Linked DNA regions of Homo sapiens. The protein of the gene in region 2 interacts with the protein of the main gene of each other region in a biochemical or structural test. Each region holds a gene or a part of one and is shown on either strand. Other genes may lie near its edges.

Region 1 (3,817 bases), on a different chromosome or scaffold from region 2:
GGTCCTTCTCCCAACTCACACTTTACCATACTTAGGAGCTTACATTTATAATTAGTTGACTAATGGCTCCTTCCCTTCTCCAAAGGTCTGCTTTAATTACCAATGTACACATAATAGACATTCGATAAATATTTGTGGACTGGCAGAGTGGATGATTTGGGGCACCTAGCACATATACAACGTCAGGCACTTGCTACAGGAGAACTGAAGGAACTCCAAAGGCCAGACCCAGCCCTGGCTGACCAGGAATGCAGGGTCCTGACAAGACTTACTCCACACGCAGACAGGAAGGGCGGCACAGGAACCAGCCCAGAGGAACTCACCGGGAGAACCAGTTGCCACAGAACAAAGCCATCCCAGACGCATATGAGGAGGAGATGGCCTAGAGTTGGTCCTGGAGGAATGTGGAGGAGGGGGAGGCCTGTCCGGCAAGAGGGCTCAGCGCTCAAAACAGAGGCAGCCAAGGGGAGGAATGATGGAGAGGCAGGTGCAGACAGACTGTGTGGGGTTCAGCCGGCAGGAGGAGGAAGCTGGCTTTTGGCTTTTTAAAAATAAATAACAGGCCAGGCGCCTGTTAGTGACTCATGCCTGTAATCCCAACACTTTGGGAGGCCAAGGTGGGCAGATCACTTGAGGTCAAGAGCTTGAGAACAGCCTGGCCAGCATGGTGAAACCCCGTGTCTACTAAAAATATAAAAACTAGCCAGGCATGGTGGCAGGTGCCTGTAATCCCAGCTACTTGGGAAGCTGAGACAGGAGAATCGCTTGAACACAGGAGGCAGAGGTTGCAGTGAGCCGAGATCAAGCCACTGCACTCCAGCCTGGGCAACAGAGCGTGACTCCGTTGCAAAAAAAAAAAAAAAAAAAATTAGCCACACGTGGCCGGGTGCGGTGGCTCACGCCTGTAATCCCAGCACTTTGGGAGGCCGAGCAGGCGGATCACAAGGTCAGGAGATTGAGACCGTCCTGGCTAACACAGTGAAACCCCATCTCTACTAAAAATACAAAAAAAAAATTAGTCGGGGGTGGTGGCAGGCGCCAGCAGTCCCAGCTACTTGGGAGGCTGAGGCAGGAGAATGGCATGAACCCGGGAGGCGGAGCTTGCAGTGACCCGAGATCACACCACTGCACTCCAGCTTGGGCGACAGAGCGAGACCCCGTCTCAAAAAAAAAAAAAAAAAAAAAAAATTAGCCGGGTGTGATGGCGCTGCCTGTAATCCCAGCTACTCAGGAGGCTGAGGCAGGAGAATCGCTTGAACCCAGGAGATAGAGGCTGCAGTGACCCGAGATCGCACCTGTCTCAGCTGAGAGTGAGACTGTCTCAAAAAAAAAAAAACAAGAAAACATACGGGAAGTGCTTCAGGGCATTGGTCTGGGAAAAGATTTTATGGATAAGACCTCAAAAGTACAGTTAACAGAGGCAAAAGTAGACAAATGAGATTACATCAAACTAAAAAGCTTCTGCACAGCAAAAGAAAAAACAGAATAAACCTATGGAACCTATGGAGACAACTTATGGAATGGGAGAAATTATTTGCAAACTATCCATCCAACAAGGGATTAATATCAAGAATATGCAAGGAACTCAAACAATTCAACAGCAAAAAAATAAATAATCCAATTTTTCAAATGGGCAAATGATTTGAACAGGAATTTCTCAGACATACAGATGGCCAACAAGTATATGATAAAATGTTCAATATCACTAATCATCAGACAAATGCAAATCAAAACCACAATGAGATATCATCTCACCACAGTTAAAATGGCTATTATCAGAAAGACAAAAAGTAACAAATGAAGGCAAGGATGTGGAGAAAGCGGAACTCTATACACTATTGGTGGGAATGTAAATTAGCACAGCCATTATGGAAAATAGTATGGAGGTTCCTTGAGAAACTACAAACAAGGCTAGCGCAGTGGCTCACACCTGTAATTTCAGCAGGTTGGGAGGCTGAGGCAGGCGGATCACCTGAGGTCAGGAATTCGAGACCATCCTGACCAACATGGTAAAACCCCGTCTCTGCTGAAAACATAAAAATTAGCCGGGTATGGTGGCATGTACCTGTAATCCCAGCTACTTGGAGGCTGAAGCAGGAGAACTGCTTGATCCCGGGAGGCGGAGGTTGCAGTGAGCTGAGATCATGCCACTGCACTCCAGCCTGGTTGACAGAGCAAGACTCCGTCTCAAAAAAAAAAGAAAAACTATAAATAGAACTACCATATGATCCAGCAATCCCACTACTGGGTATCTATCCAAAGGAAAGGAAATCAGTTTATCAAAGAGATATGGGCACCCTCACGTTTACTGCAGCACTATTCACAATAGCCAAAATATGTAATCAACCTAAATGTCCATCAATGAACAAATGAACAAAGAAAATGTGGTACACAGACACAATGTACTCTTATTCAGCCATAAAAAAGAATGAAATCCTGCCATCTGTGGCAACATGGATGAGCTTGGAGGGCATTACATTAAGGGAATTAAGCCAGGCCCAGGGAGATAAATACCACATGTTCTCACTCATCCGTGGGAGCTAATAAAAAACTGATCTCAGTTGGGTAAAGTCTGTTGGCTGACACCTGTAATCCCAGCACTTTGAGAGGCTGAGGTGGGAGGATCACTTGTGTCCAGGAATTCGAGACCAGCCTGGGCAACAGACAGACCTCCTATCTACAAAAAATCAAAAATTAGCCGGGCATGGCAACGCACACCTGTAGTCCCAGCTACTCAGGAGGCCGAGGCAGAAGGATCATTTGAGCCCAGGAGGTCAAGGCTACAGTGAGCCATGATGGCACCACTGCACTCAGCCTGGATGACAGATTGAGACCCTATCTCCAAAGAAATTAAAAATTAAAAAAAAAAAAATGCCAGGCACAGTGGCTCATGCCTGTAATCCCAGTACTTTGGGAGGCCGAGGCAGGCAGATCGCCTGAAGTCAGGAGTTTGAGACCAGACTGGCCAACATGGTAAAACCCTGTCTCTACTAAAAATACAAAAATTAGCCAGGCGTGGTGGTGCACGGCTATAATCCCAGCTACTTGGGAGGCTGAGGCTGGAGAATCGCTTGAACCTGGGAGACACCAGTTGCAGCGAGCCAAGATTGTGCCACTGCACTCCAGCTTGGGCAACAGAGCAAGAATCCATCTCAAAAAACAAAACAAACAAACAAAAAAAAACTGATCTCGTCCAGGCTCGGTAGTTCCCACCTGTAATCCCAGCACTTTGGGAGGCTGGGATGGCGGGGGGGGGGGGGGGCGCGCCGGCGGGGATCACCTAAGTTCAGGAGTTCGAGACCAGCCTGGCCAACATGGTGAAACCCCGTCTCTATTAAAAATACAAAAATTAGCCAGGTGTGGTGGCAGGCACCTGTAATCTCAGCAACTCGGGAGGCTGGGGCAGGAGAATCACTTGAACCTGGGAGGCAGAGGTTGCAGTGAGCCAAGATCGCGCCACTGCACTCCAGCCTGGGCGACAAGAGCAAAACTCCGTCTCAAAACAACAACAACAACAACAACAAACTAATCTCGCAGAAGTAGAAAGTAGAATAGTGGTCACCAGAGGCAGGAAAGGGTGGTGGGGGTGGGGGGAGTTGTGGAGGGAAATAGGGAGAGACTGGTTAATGGGTACAAAATTACGGTTAGGTGGAATAAGTTACAGTATTCTAAAGAACAACAGGGTGACTACAGTGAATAAAACTTTATTGTATATTTCAGGCCGGACGTAGTGGCTCACGCTTGTAATCCAAGCACTTTGGGTGGCTGAGGTGGGCAGATCACCTGAGGTCAGGAGTTTGAGACCGGCATGGCCTAC
Region 2 (3,817 bases):
ATTTTAATCCTCCCAATAACTCTAGGAAATAGGTATTACTATTCTTATGTTCTTCATTCTTGACTTTTTTTTTTTTTTTTAGACAGTCTCGCTCTGTCACCCAGGTTGGAATGCAGTGGCACACAATCTTGGCTCACTGCAACCTCCACCTCCCAGGTTCAACCGATTCTCGTACCTCATCCTCCTGAGTAGCTGGGATTACAGGTGTATGCTACCACGCCTGGCTAATTTTTGTATTTTCAGTAGAGACAGGGTTTCACTATGTTGGCCAGGATGGTCTCAAACTCGGTAGCCCAAGAGATTTGCCCACCTCAGCCTTGCGAAGTAGTGGGATTACAGATATGTACCACCACGCCTAGCCCTTCTTGACTTTCTATAGTATAGTACTATACTACTTTTTGATTACATGACTGCCATCTAACAGGGACCTAGTGATTTCAGCTGTTTAACTACAGTTGACCTTTAACAACACATGTTTGAACTGTGAGAGTTCACTTATACAGATTTCCTTGCCCCGCTGCCACCCCTGAGACAGTAAGACCAATCCCTCCTGTTCCTGAGCCTACTTAATGTGAAGACGATGAGGATGAAGACCTTTATGATGATCTACTTCCACTTAATGAATAGTAAATATACTTTCTCTGCCTTATGAATTTCTTTCTTTCTTTTTTTTTTTGAGGTGGAGCCTTGCTCTGCCGCCCAGGCTGGAGTGCAGTGGCGCAATCTCGGCTTACCACAGCCTCCGCCTCCCGGGTTCAAGTTATTTTTCTGCCTCAGCCTCCCAAGTAGCTGGGATTACAGGCACTCGCCACTGCGCCCAGCTAATTTTTGTATTTTGAGTAGAGACGGAGTTTCACCATGTTGCCCAGGTTGGCCAGGCTGGTCTCGAACTTCTAACCTCAGGTGATCTGCCCACCTTGGCCTCCCAAAGTGCTGGGAATACAGGTGTGAGCCACCACGCCTGGCCTTGCCTTATGATTTTCTTAATAACATTTTCTTTTCTCTAGCTTACTTTATTGTAAGAATACAGTAGATGGGGCGTGGCGGCTCACACATGTAATACCAGCACTTTGGGAGGCCAAGGAGGACAAGTTGCTTGAGGTCAGAAGTTCGAGACCAGCCTGGGGAACATAGCGAAACCCTGTCTCTACAAAAAAAAAAATAGAAAAATTAGCCCGGTATAGTGGCATGCGCCTGTGGTCCCAGCTATTCGGGAAGCTGAAGTGGGAGATTTGCTTGAGCTGGGAAGGTGGAGGTTGCAGTGATCTGAGATCGCACCACTACACTCCAATCTGGGTGACAGAGTAAGATCCTGTATCCAAAAAGAAAAAAAAGAATATGGTATATGATACACGTAACATTCAAAATAGGCTGGATGCAGTGGCTCACACCTATAATCATAGCACTTTAGGAGACTGAGGTGGATGGGTTGCTTGAGCCCAGGAGTTTGAGACCAGCCTGGGCAACACAGTGAAACTCCACCTCTGTAAAATAAATTTCAGAATTAGCCAAGCATAGGCCTGTAGTCCCAGCTACTCGGGAGGCAGAGGAGGAAGGATCAGTTGAGCCCAGGAAGTCAAGGCTACAATGCACTATGATAGTGCCACTGTACTCCAGCCTGAGTAACACAGCAAGACCCTGTCTGGAAAGAAAACAAAAAACATACAAAATGTGTGTAACTGACCATTAAGGTTATCAATAAGGCTTCTGGTCAACAGAAGGCTATTTAGTTAAGTTTTTGGGAAGTCAAAAGTTATATGCAGGCCAGGTACAGTGGCTTACACCTATAATGCCAGCACTTTGGGAGGCTGAAGCGGGTGGATCACTTGAGGTGAGGAGTTCGAGACCAGCCTGGCCAACATGGTGAAACCCTGTTTCCACTAAAAAGACAAAAATTAGCTGGGCGTGGTAGCATGCATCTGTAAACCTAGCTAGTCACAAGGCTGAGGCAGAAAAATCACTTGAAGCCAGGAGGCAGAGCTTGCAGTGAGCCGAGATCATGCCACTGTACCCCAGCCTAGGCAACAGTGGGAGACTCCATCTCCAAAAAAAAAAAAAGGTAAAGAAAAGTTTTATACAGATTTTCAACTAGGAGAGGGGACAGCACCCCTAAACACCATTTTGTTCAGGTGTCAACTGTATAAAATTTTTCAACACTAATACAGTGATTAAAAATGAGACTCTGGGCCAGGCACCTTGGCTCATGCCTGTAATCCCAGCACTTTGGGAGGCCGAGGCGGGCAGATCACGAGGTCAAGAGATTGAGACCATCCTGGCTAACACGGTGAAACCCTGTCTCTACTAAAAATACAAAAAAAATTAGCCGGGCATAGTGGCGAGTGCCTGTAGTCCCAGCTACTAGGGAGGCTGAGGCAGGAGAATGGCGTGAACCCGGGAGGCGGAGCTTGCAGTGAGCCGAGATCGTGCCACTGCACTCCAGCCTGGGTGACTGAGCGAGACTCCGTCTCAAAAAAAAAAAGAGAGAGACTCTGGAACCAAACTTTTTGGGTTGAAATTCCAACTCTACCACTTGTTAATTATATGCCTTCTCTGTGCCTTAATTTGCTTGCCTGTTGAATGGAATAATAGTATCTATCTCACAGGGTTATACGGAATGAGTTGATCCGTCCAAAGCACTTAAAATGATGCCTCATACAAGCCAGGCATGATAGTGTGCACCTGTAGTCCCAGCTACTTGGGAGGCTGAGGAGGGAGGATCACTTGAGCTCAGGAGTTCAAGACTAGCCTGGGCAACACAGTGAGATCCTATTTCAAAAAAAAAAAATGCAACCAACCAAACAAAAAAACCCCAAAACCAGTGTCTAACTCAAAACTTAATAAATGTCCATGTTAATTTTATTATTATTTAATAATGCAGTAGAAGGGAAGAGACTAAAGATATTTACAAATCCTAGGAATTAAGTAAAGAGACTGACGATTTACCAATTATTCCAAATTGTTAAATGGTTATTTCCAAATTTCAGACCAGGAACAACATTCTTCTTATTGCCTCCTCTGGCACAGCTTACCTTATCTCTAGCACAAATACGCAACTCATTGTCTACTTCACAGACACGGGCAAACTTAATAAAGCGCTTGTAATCAAAATTATTTTGGATTCCAAGATGATGGCAGTCCCTAGAAGGATTCCAAAACAGAGAGATGAAATTTTTCAACAAGGAAGCTGTACCTTAAATAGTAATACTAAATTTATATAAATATTTTAGCCAACTTTTCAGAAGTGTTCAGTGCATACCTGGCAAAATAATCCCATTTGTCCACATCAATGCCATTTCTTTTATTAGATACTATCTCATAAAGGAAGCTTTTGTTTTCAGGACGCCCTTTATATGGCCACTGGAAGGCAAGAAAACCCACTGGAAGTTTTAGGATAGGCACCAAATCTATTTATAAACAAAGCAAAGCAATTTTATTAATCTGTAAAATATAAACAGATACCTGACTGGGAATATGAGATAAACTAGAAGGTTCTATTCTTTCTTTCTTCCACTTCATTTCAAAACTAGTAGAAAGGGAAAAGAAATGCTAAGGTATATGATACCCTATTGTTACCACATTTTCTTGTGCCACTGAAAAGATCTGAACTCTATTACATTTCCCAAAACCAACAACTTTTGTGTTTTCTTGGTTTATAAGTTTTTGAAAAATATAAAATCTAGGCCAGGCATGGTGGCTCACGCCTGTAATCTCATCACTTTGGGAGGCCGAGGAGGGCGGATCACGAGGTCTGGAGTTTGAAACCAGCTTGGCCAAGATGGTGAAACCCTGTCTCTACTAAAAACACAAAATTAGTTGG

What was found.
Region 1: the proteins of SAMHD1 (region 2) and IKBKB form a complex in vitro, tested with the Homo sapiens proteins (one study listed by BioGRID).

Annotation. Positions count from the first base shown.
Region 1 is NC_000008.11:42,274,232-42,278,048, reverse strand, and holds part of IKBKB (inhibitor of nuclear factor kappa-B kinase subunit beta), read right to left. Parts: intron 1-3,817.
Region 2 is NC_000020.11:36,913,693-36,917,509, forward strand, and holds part of SAMHD1 (deoxynucleoside triphosphate triphosphohydrolase SAMHD1), read right to left. Parts: intron 3,358-3,817; coding exon 3,257-3,357; intron 3,139-3,256; coding exon 3,030-3,138; intron 1-3,029.